5 separate regions of the Homo sapiens genome follow, and all the other regions are linked to region 2. Evidence: fine-mapped expression QTL. A gene starts in region 2. Each other region holds a variant in brackets. All regions are shown on one strand. Distances are between the middles of the regions. Region 1 has its middle 27 kb from the start of OR4F6. Region 2 holds the start of TARS3 (threonyl-tRNA synthetase 3). Region 3 holds the start of OR4F15 (olfactory receptor family 4 subfamily F member 15). Region 4 has its middle 11 kb from the start of OR4F15. Region 5 overlaps TARS3 (threonyl-tRNA synthetase 3).

Evidence for each region. PIP is the estimated chance that this variant, and not a neighbour inherited with it, causes the effect. A credible set is the group of variants that fine-mapping cannot tell apart.
Region 1: its variant is the best candidate, but not a certain one, in a credible set for the expression of TARS3 in whole blood (INTERVAL, PIP 0.63).
Region 3: its variant is the best candidate, but not a certain one, in a credible set for the expression of TARS3 in whole blood (INTERVAL, PIP 0.79).
Region 4: its variant is the best candidate, but not a certain one, in a credible set for the expression of TARS3 in whole blood (INTERVAL, PIP 0.52).
Region 5: its variant is the best candidate, but not a certain one, in a credible set for the expression of TARS3 in anterior cingulate cortex (GTEx, PIP 0.56).

Annotation. Positions count from the first base shown.
Region 1 is chr15:101,774,214-101,778,814 of GRCh38, forward strand. It overlaps the pseudogene GOLGA8VP. Among named protein-coding and RNA genes, the nearest start is that of OR4F6, 27 kb to the right of the region's middle. The variant A/G (reference allele first, on the strand shown) is at 2,555.
Region 2 is chr15:101,721,548-101,726,148 of GRCh38, forward strand. It overlaps TARS3 (threonyl-tRNA synthetase 3), which reads right to left and starts at 2,926. Exons shown (of 19, transcript NM_152334.3): 1 at 2,544-2,926; 2 at 1,546-1,617. The coding sequence starts at 2,840. RefSeq lists a silencer at 2,322-3,211.
Region 3 is chr15:101,810,025-101,814,625 of GRCh38, forward strand. OR4F15 (olfactory receptor family 4 subfamily F member 15) reads left to right here and starts at 2,178. Exons shown (of 2, transcript NM_001001674.2): 1 at 2,178-2,248. The variant T/C (reference allele first, on the strand shown) is at 2,202.
Region 4 is chr15:101,820,784-101,825,384 of GRCh38, forward strand. No RefSeq gene overlaps it. Among named protein-coding and RNA genes, the nearest start is that of OR4F15, 11 kb to the left of the region's middle. The variant C/T (reference allele first, on the strand shown) is at 2,141.
Region 5 is chr15:101,683,975-101,688,575 of GRCh38, forward strand. It overlaps TARS3 (threonyl-tRNA synthetase 3), which reads right to left. Exons shown (of 19, transcript NM_152334.3): 11 at 1,922-2,088; 12 at 101-263. Among named protein-coding and RNA genes, the nearest start is that of TM2D3, 34 kb to the left of the region's middle. The variant T/C (reference allele first, on the strand shown) is at 2,156.

The DNA.
Region 1 (4,601 bases), 53 kb after region 2:
TTCCAAGTATTATCTCAGTTAATCCTCAGCACGTCTGTAAGGAAAATGTTAACTTCCTTCTGAAGTTAAGTGAACAGAGACTTAGAGATGCAAAGTACTTGAATGGTGACCAGTGGAACCGAGGCTGGAATCCAGTTTTAACCTAAGAAGCCTTTTTGTTTTGTTTGGAGACAGAATGTCACTCTGTGGCCCAGGCTGGAGTGCAGTGGTGCAATCTCAGCTCACTGCAATCTCCACCTCCTGGCCTCAAGTGATTCTCATGCCTCAGCCTCCTGAGTAGGTGGGATTACAGGTATGTGCCATCATGCCCGGCTAATTTTTTTTTTTTTGGTAATTTTAGTAAAGATGAGGTTTTACCATGTTGGTCAGGCTGATCTCAAACTCCCGACCTCAAGTAATTCTCCTGCCTTAGCCTCCCAAAGTGCTGGGATTATAGGCGTGAGCCACTGCACCTGGCATAAGGAGCCTCTTATACCACTGTCTCTTCCCCTGTGACTGGGGCCTCCATGCCGCTAGCTGAGATGATGATGTCTAGACCTGGGAGGAGCCCAGGGCTACCCACCTCTAAAAGTCAGAAGGCAGGAAGCAAGAAATAGTCACAGGACTGCCCTGGAGGGTGCTGAGGTCACCTGCCCACAGGCTAGTGCTGCCTCTGGCCTGGCACCTCCCCTCCCAACAGGCTGGTGCCCGCCTCCCAGCCCTTCTTGGATGGGGCAGAGGTTACTGTCTCCTTCACCTCGCCAAGCTTCTCCTGCAGCTCCTCTACTTGCTGCTCCAACTGCAGTGCACTTTTGTTCTTGTTCTGGACAGAGAGAAGCAATCAGCAGCCACCCATTGCAGCTGGAGACCCCAGAACTTGGTGTCTGCCTCCCATGGCACCGGGAAGGGTGGAGGCAGGTTAGAAAAATCATCCCGTCTCCCACAGCCACCAGAGCACGGCTCTGGCTCACAGGTGCCTTTAGAAGTAACGTTTCACTTGAGGGCTACACTGCCCCATTTTACAGGTGGGGAAACAAAGGCCTGGAGGGCTAGGGAGGAGGGCAGGCTCCCTAGGTGGGGCAACGCACCAGCTCCTCGAAGCTACTCTGTGGCTCGGCCAGCTGCTGAGGCCTCGCGTCCTGCTCCCGAAGCCTCTCATCCTGCTCCTGAAGCCTCTCCTTTTGCCCCAATATCAGGACACTCATGCGCTTATTGTTGTCCACCTGGGCTTGGAGTTCTGCTGCCACTCTCTCAACCTCCTTCCTCAGGTGCTGCAGCTCCACCTCAGAGGGCACTCCTGGAGGCTCCGGGAGCAGGGGTTCAGCTGAGAAAGGAAGCAGACAATAAAGGCCTCTGGATTCTCAAAAAAACAAACAAAAGAAAAACCCTCCTCTTGGTGCACAGCTCCTCTCAGGCTCCCCGAACTTGGCCTCACTGCTACTGATTCCTCACACCCAGATGGTAGCCAATCTTCCAAGCCACTTTCAGATAGAGAGCACTGTGGGTGGCTGACAACGGGCCCTCTTTGCTGATGGGGACACTGAGGATCATGGAGATGACAAGACTTGCTGTCTCTGGCACAGACCTCTTTCCTTCTGCCTCAAAGCCCTTCCATTGACCCACCTCTCTGGGGCATTCTAAGCCACTCCCACAGCCCTCTGATGCCAGTCCTGCTCCCAGGTCATGCCAGCCCCATCTTACCCATCTGGTTTTTGAGTTTGGACAAGCTCCTCTCCAGCTTCTCTCCCCGATGTGTTTCATACTTCTCCTTCTTCAATGTGTGAACCTGCCCAAACCACAGGGGTAAAGAGCCCTGGAGAGAGGGGCTGGTGGCTGGACAGGCTGCCATCTCCCTCTCTGCCCCCACCTCCACAAAGCCCAGACCCAGGACCACCTCTGGCTGTACTATTCCCATTTTACAGATGCCCAGAAAGATCCAGTGACTTATCTAAGGTGGGGGGTTGAAGGGTCAGATCTCACCTCCTGCGACATTTTCCTCATCCTCTGCTGCTCTGCTGCCACTGGGCCCTCTCTTCTTTTATATGTTGAGCATATTCATCTCTCTCTAGCCGGATTTGTTTAAGCAACTCCTTCAACTGCAAGAATGGGCACAGAAGTTAGGAAGGGCTGTCACTGGTCCTCAGCTGCTCCTGGCCACCTGGCTCATCTTCCTTCCACATCCCTCCCACTGCAAAACCTCACCCATGTAGTGTGTGCATTCAGCAGTGCCTGCTCCTGTATGGACCACTCTAACTACCACTCGATAACTGCTTTACTGCGGCTCAAGGTCTGAAGGTGAAGAGTGAGAAGTTTCGATCTGGAGAGCCCAGGCCATTCCACACAGTGCCCCTTAAAAGGCCTGGGCTAGGCTCAGTATACAACTTTGTCAGTAAAGATCAAGGCCTTTCCAAGCTCGTGGTATGGTTTTTTAAAAGAACTCAGTCAAGTTGGAAGGGACAGGGAAAGAGATTGAATTTACAGCTGGCTAACAGAGGCCCAGAGAGATCAGATAATATTGCTTTGTAATTACTGTTATTGCTACCACTGTTTGAACATTTATGGAGTGCTTCACCAG[A/G]TACCATGCTGGCAATCCCATTTAATCCTTGCAACCACCATAGGAGACAGTTACTATGATTACCTCTATTGTGTAGATGAAAACACATGGAGTATTCGAGGTTAAGTGCTTGCCTAAGATCACTTAGGCAGAGCTGGGATTTGAACACCCAGGTCTATGCAATTCTCTAAGCCCATTTTTCTTGCTGGGGGTAGGGGCATAGATTGGAAGGGGAAAATTAATCTTTTGTTCACTTTTTGAATGGATGATACATTCGCATAGTCCAAAACTCAGAAGGTACAGAAGGGAAGTATCTCCCAGCCACCCTGTTGCTCTCTCCTGAGTTTTTTATGAACCCTTGCACACATGTTTTATGTATATTATCATAGTACGTGCACACACACACACTCATGTTTCCTCTCTCTACAGAAATGGTAACATATTAAAGGTACTCTTCTGTACCTTCACAGTAGAAGTACCTAATACCCTATGTAGGACTTGGCCAACACCACAGCCAGGTAAGGGCAGGGCAGGCACTTGGCCTCCAAGCTCTGCGTCCAGTGCTTGCTCCCCACAGTGGCCCCCAACTCACCCACAGCAGCTGACTCAGCCCCAGGCTGCTCTAACAACCATACACAAAAGCAGCGGGAAATGGCCATGCTGCATTCTGGGCAGGACAGTCCATCCTGCAGAAGGGAACTTTAGGCTCACTCCTCCATCTAGGAAGCCAAGCTGCCAGGGGATGGGGCAAGTGGCTGAACTCACACTGTCCTCCTTCTTCTCCTGTGTGGTGGTGACAGCAAAGAGAGCCCGCTCTAACTCTGCTATACGCTGCAATGAATGTTGCAGGCGAATGGCCAGACCCTTGGACTCATCTGTAATGAGAGATTTGAGATGGGACCCAAAGGACTCTCCCTAAAGACATGTCAAAGTGCCAGGCGGAAAGGTGACAGGGTGCCCAGATTCCTACCTTCAAAATACTTGAGAGAACGTTTCGTATGATATAGGTCCATATTTAGTTTCCCTTTCTGTGTGTTCAATCTCTGGATTTGAACCTTTGGGAGAAAAGCCAAGCAAGTGCTGAAAGAGAAGGAAAGAAACATTCTCTGGAGGACAGGAGGGAACTGCACACCCTCCACTCACCTCTAGCTCCCTTTCGGCTTTCTGTTTCTCATTGTTTGCTTTCTTTTCCTATAGAAAGAGGAAGACAGAGCTCTTACCAGGGGGAGGCAGAGATGGCACAGCAAGAGACATGCCCCCAGAATGCCACCAATGCCCCAGGACAGGCCCATCTGTGGGACCAGGTTATCAGGGACCCTGTAGAGATGGGGTGGAATCTGAGGGGTGAGCCTTCTTTCCCAGGCTGGGAGTGGACAAGATGAGACTGGGGCCTCTACATCTGAGTGCCCCCCAAACCCAGCAGTCATGTCATGAGCAAACACAGAAATCACGTTACTTCTTCCAGCTGATGTTCCACTTGTTTCTTCTGTTGCTCCTGTGGGGAGAGTCAAATTAAGGTGATGGAGGGTGGCCCCCTCAGCTCTATTCCCCAGACCAGGAAGTGGTAGGCAGGGACCAGGAATGGATTTTAAAGGCAAAGTTCTCAGACCCAATGGGAACATGAACTGGTAAACTCTCTTCAAGCTCCCAAGGACAGAGGATTTGGGTCTTTGTTGGCTTTCACCTACAGCCACAAAACTCAAAGTCGGAATCTGGAATCTCTTGAGAGGAGAGTAACATAAACCTCTAGAGATGGAGTTTGAGAAAGGCCCCTCCTTCTGCCAGCTTGTGATTTAGAAAAGTGCGTTCATTCAATAAATATTTACTGAGCCCGTACGGGCCAGGTACGGTTCTTCACAGCAGATATAGGGTGGAAAAGGACTGACAGGAGCCCTTGGCCCTGAGGTTTCCATTCTAGGGGGCCTTTAAATCTCGGACTTTCAGAGCTGACAGAGACCTTTGATACTCACTACCTCCTCTCAAAACACAAGCCCAAAAAGGAAAGGTGGCTTGTCCAGAATCAAAGAGCAAATTAGGGACTGAGTCATGGCAGAAATACGGGGCCGCT
Region 2 (4,601 bases):
GCAGGGGCACGAAATCAGCTCACTGCAGCCTCTGTCTCCTAGGTTCAAGCGATTTTCCTGCCTCGGCCACCCGAGTAGCTGGGATTACAGGCACGCACCACCCTGCCAGACTAATTTTTGTATTTGTAGTAGAGATGGGGTTTCGCCATGTTGGCCAGGCTGGTCTCGAACTCCTGACCTCAAATGATTTACCTGCCTTGGCCTCCCAAAATGCTGGGATTACAGGCGTGAGTCACCGTATCCAGCCGCAATTTTTCAACTTTAGTGATGTGAAAGTCATATGCATTCAGTAGAAACTGTACTTTGAGTATCCATACAACCATTGTGTTTTTCACTCAGTACAGTATTCAATAAATTACATGAGATATTCAACACTTCATAATAAAATAGGCTTTATGTTAGAGGATTTTGCCCAACTGTAAGCTAATCTAAGTGTTCTGAGCACTTTTAATGTAGGCTAGGCTAAACTACGATGATCACTAGCTTACGTGTATTAAATACATTTTTAACTCACATTGGTTTTATTGGGACATAACCCAACTGTAAGACTAAGAGCATGTGTACTTCCCACCTCCAAAAGGCTCCTCTCTGCCTATCTAACTTCTCCTTAGCTCTAAAGGTCCACCTCAAAGCCTGCCTCCTCTACCTATTTTACCCGCTGGCATCTCCCTTTTTTTTTTTTTTTTCCTTTGAGACAGCCCCACGCCCAGCCCCCATGACACCTCCCTTTTCTACTGTTTACAGAACGTGTACAGAGTCACACATTACAGCACTTACTTGTATACCATCGTACTCTGTTCTCTAGTTGTTTGTCCTGAGTCTGCCTGAATTCCTCAACCAGACTAACTTCTTTGGGCCTAGGTATTCCTTCTTCACTCCTACCAAATGTTGATGCTAGATAAATACTTACTGATTGTTTTAATGCTTTATATACAAAAGCAAAGTAGCTAGTTTCTCGAATACAAAAAAAAAAAAAAGACCGGGGGCGGTGGCTCACGCCTGTAATCCCAGCACTTTGGGAAGCCAAGGTGGGCGGATCATGAGGTCAGGAGATCGAGATCCTCCTGGCTAACACGGTGAAACCCCATCTCTACTAAAAAAAAAAAAAAAAAAAAAAAAAAATTAGCCGGGCTTGGTGGCATGCACCTGTAGTCCCAGCTACTCAGGAGGCTGAGGCAGGAGAATCGCTTGAACCTGGGAGGTGGAGGCTGCAGTAACCGAGATCATGCCATTGCACTCTAGCCTGGGCAACAAGAGCAAACCTCCGCCTTCAAAAAACAAAAAAAAACCAACCAAACAAAAAAAACCAACTCTAGTACTCTAGTAGCACAACTTAAATAGATTAAATACACGTGTTTATTAAACATGGGCAGCTCATTTCTCAAGACATCTCATATTTAAGGCTTGAAAAGTTTTAAATACACTAATGTGACCCAAATAATAATTTAATCAGTAATTTTTATTGGAAATCCTAGGTAATTAACTATATACACATATTTAAAATTACAGGTAGTATTTTATATTGTTTCCACAGCAACAACTTACCTCGCTGTCAGCCTCGCTTTCCTTCATTTTCTTCTTTTTCATGTCCTTGTCTTGGCTTTGACTAGGAGGAGGCTGAAAGATAAATTATAAATGACTCACATCAATGGCAAGAAAAAGCAACACATTTTAAGAAGAGAGTCATGCCAGCAGGCTGCAAGTGCCCCGTGTTTAGAGGCTCATAGCTGGGCTCTCCTGACCACCAGCTACAGCTCTCAGTGGGCAAGTCATTCTCCAGGGTTCAGTCCTTCCTGTCACACTGTTGCTAAGCACATTTAATATATTGTGCTCTTGAAAACCTTTTGTCCTGAACTTTAAACAAATAATGTGGCTGGAAAATGTGTGGTTGCTGCCCGCCACATCAAATGCACTATTTCCTGAAGATGTTGCTAGTTCACCGCAGCTGTCCTTCCTAAAGGACTGCAGAACATCTCAGCCTGAGAAGCTTCAGGACTCAGAAAGTATGATGTTAAAAGAAGATAATTTATCCTTTCTACAAATCATAAAATACTGTATTAAATAAAAATGTTAAATATACAGCTATCCTCTCAAGATGAACCACCAAAACAAGAGCACAAAAAGCGAAAACTTCTCGTCCAAAAAAAACCCAACAACAAAAAAGAACCAGAGGGAATGAGAGTTTACATACGCAGCTGTTAGTCTTTCTGACCAAGGAAAGAATGAGTTTTAAACACTCCAGCATTTTTTCAAACAAATGAAAACACTATTTCTGCTACTGAAAAAGATGCGTGGCAGGCTCTTTAATGGACGAATTGAGAAATCAACAGCATTTGGTTAAGTCTGGCGACTGCTGGAAATCCGGCGGCTCCCCAGGCCACACGGGACCACCGAGCAGGGCAGGGCGGGCCAGCCGCAGGGCACTGGGAGGGCACTCCCCCGGGGCGCCCCCGCACCTGCCCCCGCAGTTGAAAACCTTTCGGTGCGCACCGTCTCGGCCCGCCCCGCCCGCGTCCTCTCCAGTGTCCCCACCGCCCGGTTACCTGTGCGCCGGCCTCCTGCGCCGCCTCTAGCTCCGCGCTCTCCAGCGTGGCCTGGCGGCTCCGCTCCTCGGCGAGGCACAGCCGCAGGCTGCACAGGCGGTGGCGCAGGTCGCAGTTCTCGGCCCGGAGCTGCGCCACCTCCCGCGTGAGGCACGGCCCCTCCGCCTGGCAGCTGTAGGGCGCGTTCAGCTGCTCGTCCCTCAGGCGCTCGACCTCCGACCACAGCCAGCGGATGTCCTCCTCCTGCCGCTCCAGGCGCGACGCCACGGCCTCCGCCGCCAGGGCCTCGGCCGCCATCGCGGCCTCCCTCAGGCACCGACGCCGAGCGGGGTGCCCGCGACTGCGGCGAGGGCGACGCGGACACTCAGCGCACGGCAGAAGACAGGGCTCCCGGGAGGGGCGGGGCGATGGGGCGGGGACGGAGCCATGGGGCCTCGTTGGAGCCGAGGCCTACACGTTGCAGGGGCGGGGCGCTGGGCGGGGAGGGGCGGGGCCTAGGCCAGATACCCTGCAGGGGCGGGGCGGGGCGGGGCGGGGCCTGAGGCCAGATACCCTGCAGGGGCGGGGCGGGGCGGGGCCTGAGGCCAGGCCCACCTTAGGGTCACGGGCAGTGGGGAAATGGGGTCTGAAGGGCCTCCCCTGCCTTTCGAGGCCTGTCTAGAGGCTATTGGCAGTAGTTTTTAGTCCGTTGAAACGAAAATCTTCCAAAACCTTGCAAAAAGGCCATCGTCTGCGTTCTCCAAAAAGGCTTCACCCTTTCTTCCTCTTGAATTCTGGCAGTCACCATTCTTTTGCCTTGCAAACAGGTTCTAAAAAGTGGCCATTCATTATAAATGGACTTTCTGGCCTTTCGTGCCAAACTTGCCCAAGTACTGAGGCCTCTGGGCCAGGGCATATAGAAAATCGCTGTGAAATCTAAATCCGACCAGCACGAAATTACTGGCTCCTTGAGTCTAGGGCAAATGCCACATATATCTTTGTATCCCTCTTAACCATGAGCGTGAAACTTCCTGGAGCAGGAACAGAAATTGATTTTTATCACTATTCTTAGGGCTTAGGATGTGACAAACACTGTTCTAAACTCTGTAACAGTAGTAACTCCTTTAATCTTCATAACAGGAGATACTGTTATATCCGCTTATAGCTGGAGAAATTGAAGCACAGTGAGACTGTGTTACTTGACTAAGGTCACACAGCCACTACATGACAAAGGGGGAATCAAACTCAGATAGTCTGATGCCAGTTTCTACACACTTAACACTAGTACTTTTCAACTTTGGCAGAATTTAATTGAGCATGTCATATAATGTGATACAGGTAATAATGCCCTTATAAGAGTCCTGAAGTGGAAGAGCTTAGCTTGGACTGGTGTGGTTTGAGAAAGGGAGAAAATTTTGAGAAAGGGGAAAAGGTTTATTTTGCTCTGGAAAATAAAGGTTGGGAGATGTTAGCAAGGAGGAAAAGCAGGTAAATTCCACTCCAGGAGCAGAATCAGTGCAGGAGAAGGAGCGGAGGGGGACAAGCTCATTGGATTAAGCTAAGTGGAATCCCAAACAGCACCCAGGAGGAGATTCCATGAAGTATGTTGCTAACCAATATCACTGTATCTTTTTTAGTCCTTCCTCAGGAAGCCTCTGGATACAGTTACATAGGACCCACTGACTCCTCATTATTCATCATTTCTCAATCCACTGCCATGGAGTTTCTGCTTCTGCCATTCTGTCATGACCAACACATCACTGAATGTCATGGACCCACTTAAGCCACCCCAGAATTTCCTCGGGACCCTCTGGAATTTGTCTCTCTTGGGTCTCCATTCCCAATACCTAGGCAACCACCAGTCTGCTTCCTGTCACTATAGGTTAGTTTGCATTTTCTTGATTTTTCTACACATGGAACCACACCGTATGTCCTCCTTTTGTTTAGCTACTTTCAGTCGGCACAATAATTTTGATATTTACCTATGTTTGTGTGTATCTATTGTTCTTTTTTTCTGAGTAGTATTCCATTGTATGGATATACCATAATTTGTTTATTCATTTGTTGATGGAAAATTTG
Region 3 (4,601 bases), 88 kb after region 2:
TTCACCCTCTGGCCTAATTCTGTATGAGTGGGCATTTGAATATTTTGTCATGAATTTCTGATGTGTAATTGCTAGCACAGCAACATGGATGAATTAATGACTGCTCTTTAAAACCCTAAGTCTAGGGTCAGGACTATGGAGAAGAACATGATATTTGTGCCCCCACTTTGATATAATTTCTGGGGTTGGAACTATTCATTAATTTAGATCAGTCATTGGCTTTATTTGCAGTTTTTCCCATACCACAAAACAGTGGTTAATAAAATAATTCTCACTACTTCAAAAGATCAATGCCTCATAATGCTTTAAAAGACATGATCCTTGTCATTGCTGATCTCTAGGGAGACAATGTCGAAGGTGTCCACGGCAGTGTTGGTTTTGGTATAGGGAAGATATGATCTTCAAAATATTAAACAACTGCATTGATCAGAACAGATGCTGGTCCCAGAGTTGGAGCAAGATCCTGGAGACTCCTGCTGTTCCAGGCATTAACTTTTAGTAGCTGATTCATAAGGAGTTCTGAGGAAGCAACTTGGAAGCGGTTGGAACCTTAAGAGGCTTGTGACAGTGGCTATATTCTAACCAGTGTGCAAGTATTTTAATTTTTTACAACTGGTATTATTACATTGGTGTCTTCTAGCTAAATATTAACATTGTTGGTATGTGAGGGTTGAAGTTAGAAGCAAGGTCCAATACTTGCTTAATCCAATCAGTGACCCTGAAAAACTTGGGGGTGATCTGAGTACTCAGAAAGGCAGAATGTGGTGCATACCCACCATGGAGTGCTCTGCAGTATTTAGAAGTGATATACTAGATGTACATATAGCAACATGAGACAAGTGGAAAAAAAGAATCAGAATGAGATATAGAATACCATTTTCTATGTATATGCATACAAACAATACTACATGTTTCACGATAACACAAAAGCAAGACACACTTAAAAACACCAGAATGACTGTCTTTGAGAGAAAGGGATTGAGAACGGAAATTAAAGGGGATAAACAAGAAAAACAAGAGTGCTTGTTGTAACCCAGTGATCATTGCTTGTTGATCAATTGATCAATGCTTGTTGTAAACCAATGATCATTAAGCACCATGGACAGAGACACATGATTACACCTAAGGTTAGAAAACCACACAAGTCCCGTTGCTTCCTCTTAATATTTTGAAATCAATCCTTATTCATATTATTCCTGCTTCCTGATGACAGACACAGTAAAAGATAATGGAATTACTTCAACAGCTGGATTCTTTTATTAAATTCAATGAATATAGTCTTCTTTGATTACAGGAAACTGCAAGTTGCTTTGGAAAAAATGAATGTGAATTAGATAAAGCCTATATCTTCAAAGTGCTTGGTACAATATGCTACATTTATAACTTATAAAAGTCACATTATAAGATACTAAAATTTTTTATAGCTTACTCTTTTACTTGCCTACTTTATTCATTATAGATAAAATTTAAAAGGATTCCATATGATTTTTATGAATATCTTGGGAAGTGGATATTATTAGATTATCTAGAGACACTTTCATTTATCATGATAGGATTTAAATTGTTAAAGATTGTGTCCTTTGCAGGGACATGGATGGCGCTGGAGGCCATTATCTTTAGCATACTAACTCAGGAATAGAAAACCAAAAACCACATGTTCTCACTTATAAGTGGGAGCTAAATGATGAGAACACATGGACACATAGAGGGAAGCAACACAAACTAGGGCCTATTGGAGGTTGGGAGGAGGGAGAGGATCAGGAAAAATAACTAATGGGTACTAAGCCTAATACCTGAGTGATTAATCTGCACAATAAACCCACATGACACACCTTTACCTATGTAACAAACCTGCACATGTACCCCTGACCTTAAAATAAAAGTGAAAAAGAAAAATAATCCAGAAAAATATAAAGTGGTGGAGATTGATTTTTCTTAGAGATTCTAGAGTCATTCCTTTCTCCTGTGACTCATTATCAACATTTCTTCTTTGTTGCTTTGCATGTATTTCTAGGAGACAATTTCTTGGCTCATTGACTTTAGAGTTGCAGTCCCAGGTCATTATAGCTTTATTAGGTCACTATCCTCCAGTGCAGTTAATTAGCTATTTTTCCATTTATATAAAGATTTTAAATACCTCTGTGTGCTTGAGATGATAGTCTGTAAATAGCTACAAGGTAAGGATGGCATGAAGTTCACAA[T/C]GGGAGCATGATAAACTAGATAAACTTCAGCTGCAAGAAAGACTCAGGTAACAGTTTGTTAGCCTGGGGCAGAAAGAAACAGGTGGTTGTGGTGGGGAAATGGTGATCACAGGAAAGGCATAAATATGAATTACCTGGAAAGGGAGAACAAGAATTAACCTTAGTTTTTAACTAAAACTTAGAAATGACTTGGAGATCCAAAGGTGCAAAGGAGTACACTACAGAGTCTGGAGTCTGCACTGTGGCTTGGTTCAGGGCAGGACTAGGATGCATGTAAAGTTGTTTGTGGTATCCAGAGACTTTTGGGGAAATCTATTAGCCCTGAAAATGAAGACAAACATGCTTGTTGTCTTCCTAACAAGCTTGTTGTTTACTTCTATTTCTAGAGAAGACCCAAGATATAAAAAGGAGAAAGTTCATCAGATACTAGTCATAAGTGAAGCTTTAAAAGATGAAATTCCAGTTTCATGGACTCAAGATGGAGAAGGAATAATTGAAAACATTTGGAAGAAAAACATCTGGGTTTTTAACTCACCCTGAACTAAAAAAATGTAGTGTCTGTTAAAATTAGTTGATTGAAGAATGGAGGAAAAAAAAGTAGGAAACTAAATGTGTAATGTTTAACAACCTGCAATAAATCCTCCTATACTTGTTCATGTTTTCAAAACATTTATGATAAATTTTTAGGTCTATATAATGAGAAGTTTAGGTAGTGAAATGGAGTGATTAGACAAAAGTGACAAGATAAAGAGGTAGAAGATGGATCCTTTGAGGAAGGCTAAAGCAAATTGAGGTGAATAAAACTAGAGGGTACAGATGAGTGATCTTTATTTGCTTTTACCAACATCAAGGATATTAAGCACTTATCTGACAGAGTACCTGACAACTTCTTTATATCCACAGGGGATGAATTAAGTGGATATCAGCTTAGTTGAAAGGATGGAGATTTCCTTTTTGTAAGAGAACATTTGGACTTTTATGTTAATGAGAAGCAGGACACAGCCGGGCACGGTGGCTCATCACCTGTAATCCCAGCACTTTGGGAGGCCGAGGTGGACAGATCAGTTGAGTGCAGGAGTTCGAGACCAGCCTGGCCAACATGGTGAAACCTCATCTCTATTAAAAATACAAAAATTAGCCAGATGTGGTGGTGCATGAATGTAAATCCAGCTACTCGGGAGGCTGAGGCTACAGAATCGCTTAAACCTAGGAGGTGGAGGTTGCAGTGAACCGAGATTGTGCCATGGCAATCCAGCCTGGGTGACAGAGTGAGAATCTGTCTCAAAAAAAAAAAAAAAAAATGCATGATACCTGTTCATAATAGCTAAGAAATATATTTTTGAACCTTGAAAACTGAGGGAAAAACTGACATTTCCTGGATGGGTAAATAAAGGAACTGGTTCAGAACGTAGTCTCAGATCTTTTCCAGCTCATTGAGTTTATTGATTGAGAATAATGAACATCTTTTTAAGAAAATTTTAAAATGTAGTGATCATAAATCTATTCTAAGAAGTTGCCCAATTCCGATCCCATGCAATTCCAGTTAGGTGAATTTAAATTTAAATGATTCCATCAAATGCTAGACTATCTGTATTTGTCACACTATCACAATTGTTTAGTGTAAATAGATGATAACTATAATTCATGTCATTGTAATTATTGAGAGCAATAGCCAGGCCAGAACTAGGGAACTCAAAGCAGGATATCTCCTAATGGCAATGGCCTTAGGAGAGAACACATTCTTTCCATGGAGGGTTTGGGATGCATCAAAATAATCAAACACTTATAACCCAATGTGTCATCCTGGAAGCCATTCAGCGACCCAAAGATGAATACTTAATACTTAAGAAATGTGAAGACAAGAGGACAAAAGCTGAGTAAATTTTTAGATCTGCTGCCATTTGCTCTTTGTATTATTTTCTCATCTTTGCTTTATGAGGGATTGTGAAGTAGGTAAATTTTGTGTTTAGCTCAATTTATTCTTTTACTCAGTTCTGGCTTCATTCCTGCGACTCTTATTCTCCTACCCAGCCCTTCAGCTATTACTCTGTCTCCTGAAGCAACCAGCCCTTGATAATCCTTCTTGGGTAATGACTCAGCTTAAAAATGGATCACTTATTTCTTCATCATTAAGAGTCTCATGTCTTGCATGCATGCGATCTCCACTAAGGAAAGCCAGCTGTTATTTTTTTTGTCTGCAATGCTCAATGGAGTATCCTTCCTGTAGCAATGTAAGCAAAACAAGGGACTTTAGTATCTTAACCTAAAGGAAAACAACTCTAATGCTGCAGTTTTTTAACCTAAAAGAAAGCAGCTCTAATGTTAAAGGAAATATTTTGGGGCACTGGAGCTTTTAATATTGCACATCTACACAAACTCCTACTTTGCTATTTCTTCCCC
Region 4 (4,601 bases), 99 kb after region 2:
TAGAGAGGAGGTGTCTGGGGCACAGAGTTGCTAAATATCATCAAGGTTATGAAGTAGTAAGTGTGGACGCAAAGTCTGCTAGTTTGAATTCAGAGTTGGTTCTCAAAACCCGTGCACTACAGTGCATCTCTGGCAATAAAACGTATCAGGATAGCTCCTTTACTTAAAAGCAGTCCCTATTTGTGGGCCCTCTACTGGGTGACGTCATTACCACCAAACCCAGCATTTATGGGGTCAATTAATTTACAAAAATTTTTTGTATATGTATACCCATTCAGCCGTTTTGTTGTAGGCTGTCACTACAATCAGGGAAGTTGAAATGCCAGAATTTCTCCGATATAGAGGAAAATGTCTAAAGTCTCCAGAAGATATTAAATAATTCCTAACTCTACCTTTCTTGGAGGGGGTGGGAGGACATAGCATCACCATGGCTGATTTAATAAATGGTAGAAGGAAGGACTGTGCAACAACTCTAAGTACACATACACATAGTAATGATCTACCAGTACTTTGCTCAAACTTACCTATGACCATTTATTTGTAGAATTAAACACCAGGAAAAATAAGGAATATCACAATATTTAAAGGACTGTTGGACTCAGAGTTGACATTTACTCCCAGATTCCTGAAGGGTCATCACTGCTGTTTTGAGTGGACACATTTGGTAGTATGTAGAGTCCTAGTTCAGATCAGGTGCATGTTGGGTTCACCAAATGACAACCTCCCAGTGATCCTTACATCATTTCCTCAATGTATAATTGGAAAAGATATACTTGGTAGTTTGTACAACTCCACACTTCTTCCTTGTCCTGTGGGTTACAGTTATTATGGTAGGGAAGTCACCAAAACTGTCCTATCCCCCAGTATAAAATAGTATTTTTCTTTTTTTTCTTTTTTTGAGACAGGGTCTCGCTCTGTTGCCTAGGCTGGAGTGCAGGGGCACGACCTGCAGCCTCCACCTCCTGGGTTCAAGCGATTCTCCTGGCTCAGCCTCCCAAGTAGCTGGAATTACAGGCGCATGCCGCCACACCCAACTAATTTTTGTATTCTTATTAGAGACAGGTTTTCGCCATGCTGATGAGGCTGGTCTTGAACCCCTGACCTCAAGTCATCCACATGCCTTGGCCTCCCAACATGCTGGGATTACAGGTGTGAGCTGCCATGCCCAGCCTAAAATAGTATTTCAAAAATTATACTTCATTATGAAGGGGTAAAAATATCCCAGAGATACAGAAATAGTTCCCATTCTATCTCCATTTAATTCACCAGTGTGTCACCTATGAAAGCTAGTCACTTCCTGGAGAATGCCAATGGACTATTGTAAACTTATCCCAGTAGTAATCTAAATTGCAGCTACTGTGCCAAAGGTGGTACCTTTGCTAGAGCAGATTAACATAGACCTGGGTATATAATATGTGATCATTGATCTGGTAAATTTTCTCTTCCATCTCTTTCACAAAGTAGAATTAGAAACAGCATTCACTTGGAATGGACAACATATACGTTTGCTGTCTTACTGTACCATAAAATAGCCTGAAGAGACTTGAACCATTTGGATATTTTATAGATTGTCTTAATGGTCGATTATATTAATAACACTATGCTGTCAAACCAGATGAAGGAGTGGCAAGTATTAGATACTTTAGTAGTACACATATGCTCTCAAGAGAAGGAATAAACTCTATAGAGAACTGTGAAATTGTCACATCATTAAAATTTTGAGTTTGATGGCCCAGTCCATGCTAGGAGGTCCTTTTCAAAGCAAAGGAAAATGTTTTTTCCTTCTTTAAAATTTTTTTTATTTCAAGTAAGTTTTGGGGTACAAGGGGTTTTTTTTTGTTATATGGATGAATTATATAGTGGTGAATTCTGATATCTTTGTGCACCCATCACCTGAGTAGTGTGCATTGTACCTGACGTGTAGATTTTTACCCCTAGCCTCCCTCCCACACTCCCACTTCTGATTTTCTAAAGTCTATTATATCACCCTGTCTGACTTTGTTTACTCATAGCTTAGCTACAACTTATAAGTGAGAACATAAAGATTTGGTTTTCCACTCCTGTGTTACTTCACTTAGAATAATGGCCTCTAGCTTCATCCAAGTTGCCGCAAAAGACATTACTTCATTCCTTTTAATGG[C/T]GGAGTAGTATTCCGTGGTATATATATTTTTTATCCACTCATGAGTCGATGGGGGCTTAGGTTGGTTTTCCACATCTTTGCAATTACGAATTCTGCTGCTATCAATATACATGTGCAAGTATCTTTTTCATATAATGACTTATTTTCCTTTGGGTAGATACCCAGTAATGCGATTGCTGGATCAAATGTTAGATCTACTTTTAGCATTTTAAGGAATTTCCTTACTGTTTTCCATAGAGGTTGTACTGATTTACATTCTCACCAGCAGTGTATAAGTCTTCCCTTTCCCCCACAACCGTGCCAACATCTATTGTTTTTTGACTTTTTAATAATGGCCATTCTTGCAAGAGTAAGGTGGTGTCTCGTGGTTTTGATTTTCATTTCCCTGATGATTAGTAATGTTGAGCATTTTTCATGTATTTGTTGGCCATTTGTATATCTTTTTTTGAGAAATATCTATTCATGTGCTTTGCCCATTTTTTGATGGGATTATTTTAGTTTCTGCTGACTTGAGTTTCTTGTAGATTGTGGATACTAGTCCTTTGTCAGATGCATAGGTTGCAAATATTTTCTCCCATTCTGTAGGTTGTCTATTTACTCTGATTATTATTTCTTTTGCTGTGTAGAAGCTTTTTAGTTTAACTAGGTCCTATTTATTTTTGTTCTTGTCGCATTAGATTTTGAAGTCTGAGTCATGAATTCTTTGTCTAGGCTGATGTCTAGAAAAGTTTTTCTGATGTTGTCTTCTAGAATTTTTATAGTTTCAGGTCTTATATTTTAGTCTTTGATTTACCTTGAGTTGATTTTTTATAAGGTGAGAGACACAGATCCAGTTTCATTCATCTACACATGGCTTACCAGTTTTCTCAGAACCATTTATTGAATAGGTTGTCCATTCCCTAATTTATGTTTTTGTATGCTTTGTCAAAGATCAGTTGGCTGTACATATTTGACTTTATTTCTGGGTTCTTTATTCAGTTCCATTGGTCGACATGCCTACTTGTATATAAGCACCATACTGTTTTGGTAACTATCGCCTTGTAGTATAATTTGAAGTCTGGTAATGTGATGCCTCCAGGTTTGTTCTTTTAATCAAAGGAAAATTATTGCATCTTGCACCTTCTGTCACTAATAAGAAAGAACTATACCTGGTAGATTTCTTCCATTTCTGGAGGAAGCATAGGCTATAATCAGGAATACTACCACAACCCATATGCTGAAAGCCATGAAAGTCTGTCAGCTTTGAGCAGGGCGCAAATATGAAAAAGATTTTGCTGTAAAAGATCTAGACTTTGTGCAGATAGCCTTACTTCTTTGGCCATACTACCTGGCATACCCAGGTATTAGAAAAATTGGTGGTGAAAAGAGAAAAAATGAGTTTCATAGCAAGCACCAGTTGGATAATTACAACACAAAGCTTCAGGGGCTTAAGCAATCATTTTTCTAAAGATTACAGAGTAATTAACACATGACATGTAGTTCCACAAGATGTCATATTATACCACATTAAAGATATGGAGGTATGAGAGTTAGGACATGACCATTAGATCTACTGGCCTCTTCACATACTGCACCACCCAGAATCTGCTCATCTAATGAAGCAATGAAATGGCTGTTATCAAAATAGTCCTCATGGTGAGCTACAGGAAAGAGGATTTCAACAGCCATGTTTCATGTTAATCACCTTTTTCTTCCCCTCCATTCCCGCTAAGTGATTCATGTGAAATACACTGGCGGAGGCTGCCATTTTGGGTTTAGATTACTCTGCAAAGATATAACAGCTTATTTCTTCTATGTTGCCAACTTTCTTCTGCCCTGATGTTATTTGTCCTGCCCTGTTTGTCCCCCGGATAAAAAATGAGTGGGTTCAGACAACAATAGCCCAGTTTCCATTTGTCTCTCCAGTGTCACTCTTGACCCTTCTCCACCCAGTTTTGTGCCTTTATTAAGCTCTTCTTCAGTTACCTAACTTGAGTGTCGCGTCTCTTGTCCTGGCAGGATCCTGACTGACACAAGTGTACAAAATTGAAAGTAAAAATACCTTGTTTTCTTGCACAACAATCTCACTGTCAAAAGTGCTTATTGCAAAAAGTTTATTGTCTACTTGTTCCGATTTGTATGCACAGCGGCATAGTGTGTGCTGCATTGGTATCCACTGTTTCACTCAATGGTGTGTCGTGGTTGTCTTTAACTGTATAGATATCAAACTTGCTTTACAGTGGCTTTAGAGAATTCGATTGTATGGATGTAGAATACTCTTTTAAATTTATCATCAACTGCTGGATGTTTTAGTTGTTTCATTTTCTATTAAGCTCTAAACACCGGAATGAATTTCTGTACAGCTAAATCTTGGTACATATCCATAACTACACAGCATATGACTATGTAAAAATGAAGTGTTGTATACATTCTTCTACCATTTAAACTGTAATAAAAATTTGGCACAGTGGCTTTTCTAGAG
Region 5 (4,601 bases), 38 kb before region 2:
CAAACGTCTATGTTTCAGTAACTCTGAAAGAATACAAGATGTGTGCGGGGCATCACACTCAATTTGTGACCACACTGCTTCACTCTGTGTTATTGTTTACCTGCTCCACTGTGCAAAAAATGTGAGCATCGTCCTGCTGGAAGCGCCTCACTCTGGTCAAGCCGCTGAGAGTCCCCGACAGTTCATTTCTATGCAGAACTCCAAAATCAGCAAATCTAATAGGCATTTCCCTCCAAGATCGTGGACGATGGGCAAACATTAGACTAGAAAAGATGTGGTAACACACAGCTTTTACACAGCACAGAAATATTAAATAATTATCTAAATATAAAGAAATTACAATTAAGCCTCAAGATTCATAAACTCCTTATTCTAGTTCTTAGATCACCAGGTTAAAAAAAAAATTCTTCCACAAATTAGTGAACCTTGCATTTACATCACTGCAGCACTCTGAGAAAGATGCTTGTCTATTATCTCTTCCCAGAAATGCTGTTCCCTCCCCTTATCCACACAGTGAATCACCATTTACTGTTTATGATTCATTTCAAAGGCTACTTCTTAAATGAAGCCCTCCTAGACATTTCCCAGACAGGGCTAGGCAGTTTCTCCTCACGTTCCTGGAACACCTCAAACATGCCATCATTATGGCACTGGTCTTTTTATAACAGATTGTCTACATGCATGGCCCTGCCCACTCTGCTCATGAGTTCCATGAGGGAATGGTTTGTGTCTTAATCACCTCTGCACTTCTAGCTCCAAGCACAAAAAGCACTCAACTATGTTCTCTGTTGAATGAAAGACTTCTCTCCTGCAGAAAGCACTCCTAGCTTCCATATCCCATTGCCTCTAAGCCACCGTGGTCTTGCTTTCTTATTCTGAGGTGTAAAAAGACAAACTTAAATTCTCTACTTTCATTATAAAGTACGAGGCTATAATTTTAAAGGATGCCTTTGAGAAGATGAGTTAAGAAATTGTTAACACAAGTGTTTTACAATGCAAAACACTAGCATAGCTTCTACCTTCTGTTTAGAAAGAGAGGATACAGAATGTTTACATACCGGTGTTCCTAAAATTAAAGTTATATATATTTTTTACATGACATCATCATAAAGTTAAATTTCTTCTCATCTTCACTTAAAAGGGCAAAGAGCTTTCTTCAGTGTTCAGTTACCGGTTTTAATAATTATCTTCTAGGTAAATTTACTTGAAACTATGTATGTTGATAATACAAAAACTACAATTGTTGGGATTGTTTTTTGTGGACAATTATGCCTATTCAGTTTCAGTTGTACAATATGTTTGTCTTACAAGGTTGAATTTGCATACCAACTTTATGATAATTAGTCTTTCATAGAATCAAAGACAGCATTGATTGTAAAATGTATCTTCATTTTATGTGCTACAAAGAAAGAAAATAACCTATTAATTAAATTATGATATAATGCTAAGATGCCACCAACTATAAGATGCATTTCAACTTCAGAAATGTTGAAATGTGGAAGAAAAATGGTATCTTGGAATCAGTGAAATCCAGAAACCCATTGATTATGACCTCATTGATCTTGTTATAATCCACCCAAACAGTATGAAAGAACTAAATATTCTGCAAATATGAACATGTGAAGTGCATTACTATAAGAAAGACAAATATTATAAAACTTATAAAATTGACACATAACATTATCCTTTAATCAGCACAAAAAAATGCAATGGTTACCAGCTAACATCCCATACCTGCCAAAGATCAAATATATTTTCAAAAGTAAATCCATTCTCCGGAATGAAACAACTTAGTAAAAATTAGTAATCACCACTCTTCAGATTAAAGGGACTCTTTCATTCCACAAAGCATTAAAAGATAATTGTGACGAAGCGTGCTATGTGCTCTCATGAAAAGGTCTGCTTCGCTTTTAATACTCACCAGTGCCCTGGACAATTCATGGGTTTGAGGGCAAAAGTGTCCTTTTCAATCTCAAAGGTAAACATGTTCTCGCTGTAATGCTGCCAGTGGCCTGAGGCTTCCCAGAGTTTACTGTTGTACATATTGGGAGAGAGCACCTCCGTGAAGTCCCGTTTGTGATATTCCTCCTTCAAGATACATGCATTCAACATTAAAATCTGCTAGGGCAGATCACAATTCCATGCAAAGTAACAC[T/C]ATGAGCAAATATTTTCAAATTGGGCTCATGTCCTATATTAATTCATGATTAATGTACCCTCAGTTTTAGGTGTGGTGGTTTCTGGATCTTGGAAGAAAGATTTACATATGCTTAGTATAATTTCTATTGAGTATATTTATTTTATAGCATATAACAGTATATAGTATATAATGTTTTAGTTCTTTGAAAAGTAGTAATTGAAATACAATATATATAGAAACTCACTGTAACTACTCCAAAGTCCTTCTAAACAGGTTTTTTCCTATTAAGAGGCAGAAAAAATTTATAATTTAATAAGCCTGAATGCCATGTTGCATGTTATAATTTTGATTTATTTAGTTTTAAACAGAAATAAGAATTTTAGTGTATAACGATTTAAGTAGTTGAAATTATTAAGTCATGAGCTGGCCTCTCTCCCTCCCTACCTATTAACAGCTTCCCTAATTGAATTACTGGAGACAGGAGAAGAGAGTTTTTTTCCAAGCAAAGTTTTAACTTTATTTAAACTTTCTTTAAAAACAAAACAATTAGGTGATCTTTGTTGGGTAAATATTTTATGTGCACTTTCCAAAAATGCATATTCTGCTGTTGTTTTACAAATGTCAATTAGGTCAAATTGTTTTGACAGTAATTTGATAGGGACCCTTTGCATGACAGTTTTAATTTGGATGAACACAAAAAGCTGAATAAGTAAGAATTCTGAGAATCCTTAGATTCTCAACATTTGTAAACCACTTAATGGACATCTGGCCCAAATCTAGAATGCCATGTATACTTTGAGCACATTTGAAAAACTGTTTTCACAGCTAAAAAAACATAAAACATAACATTTTAAGATTACTAACAATGGTTTTATACAACTGAAAGGAATGTTGTCTGTTATTCTTCAGCAGGGCATCCTGGCAGTCCACGGTAGACAGCTTAGGTCTCGGCCATTCAGTGAGCTGCTTTACCTATCCTTTGTTTTTACTAAATTAGAAAACCTTAACAGGTAGGGTGTGGTGGCTCACGCCTGTAATCCCAGCACTTTGGGAGGCCAAGGTAAGTGCATCACCTGAGGTCAGGAGTTTGAGACCAGCCTGGCTAACATGATGAAACCCCATCTCCACTAAAAATACAAAAATTAGCCAGGCGTGGTGGCACACACCTGTAATCCCAGCTACTCAGGAGGCTGAAGCAGGAGAATCGCTTGAACCCAGGAGGCAGAGGTTGCAGTGAGCCAAGGTCACGCCATTGCACTCCAGCCTGGGCAACAAAGCTAGACTCCATCTCAAAAAAAGAAAGAAAATGTTTAACAAAATGATGTCATTAAGAATGGCAGTGATTATTGGCTATTTCAGATGGTTCCATATATTCAGATTAAACAAGGTCCCAGAAATTAAGGGTGAGTGTGTGGGTGTGTGTGTGGCAGGGTGTGCGTGTTCGCTTTTACTAAAAACTACTTTTAAAGTCTAGCTCAGGAGATACTGCTCAATGCATTTTTAATTCACTCTGAATGCAACCATGTTAGGAATGTATGTCTTCTTGAGATGTTTAGAAATGATTTTAAACTATCCCTGCAATGGACTGAATGTGTCTCCCCCAAAATTGTGATATTGATACCTTAACCCCAAGGTGATGGTATTAGGAAGTAGGGCCTCTGACAAGTGATTAGGTCATAAGGGTAGAGCCCTCATGAATGAGATTAGTGTCCTTATAAAAGGATTCGCAGAGAGCTCTCTGGTCCTCTTTCTGCCATCTGAGGTTACAAGAAGTCAGCAGTCTGCAACCTGGAAGAGGGCCCTCACCAGAACCCAACCATGCTGGGACCCTAATCTTAGACTTACTGCCTCTAGAACTGTGAGAAATACCCTTATGTTGTTTATAAGCTACCCAGTCTAGGGTACTTTGTTATAGCAGCACAAACTAATGAATATAATCCCTATGAGATGAAGTGTCAGCAACTATTATATTTTTACATAAATATATAGGAGATATCTATATATATTATGCTGCTGTATCTCTCCATATTGTAATATACATATTGTTTTGTCTCTCACACACACATATAAATAACAGAGAGATAAAGCAAACTGGCAAAATATTACCAACTAATGAATCCAAATGAAGGAAATATGGATGTTCATTGCATTGCATTTTAGTTTTTCTCTAGATTTGAACTTTTCAAGAGAAAAAGTTGGGGAGTAAAATATGTCTCATGCCATGCCATTAATTTCTTTCTCTAATGCTGGGAAAGAGTAAACTCTCAGTGACTGAGCAGTTCACAGCTCAGTCCAGTCTCCTGAAGAAATCCAGATAACTTATCTGGAACATTAAAAATCATATTTCATCCTGGAAATACCAGTTTAGGTTATTGAAGGAGCTGAGTCTCTACCCATACCTAGTGATCTGGCCACTTAAAAACATCTAAATAGCTTCTAAGAATCAGTGTCATAAATTTGTTTT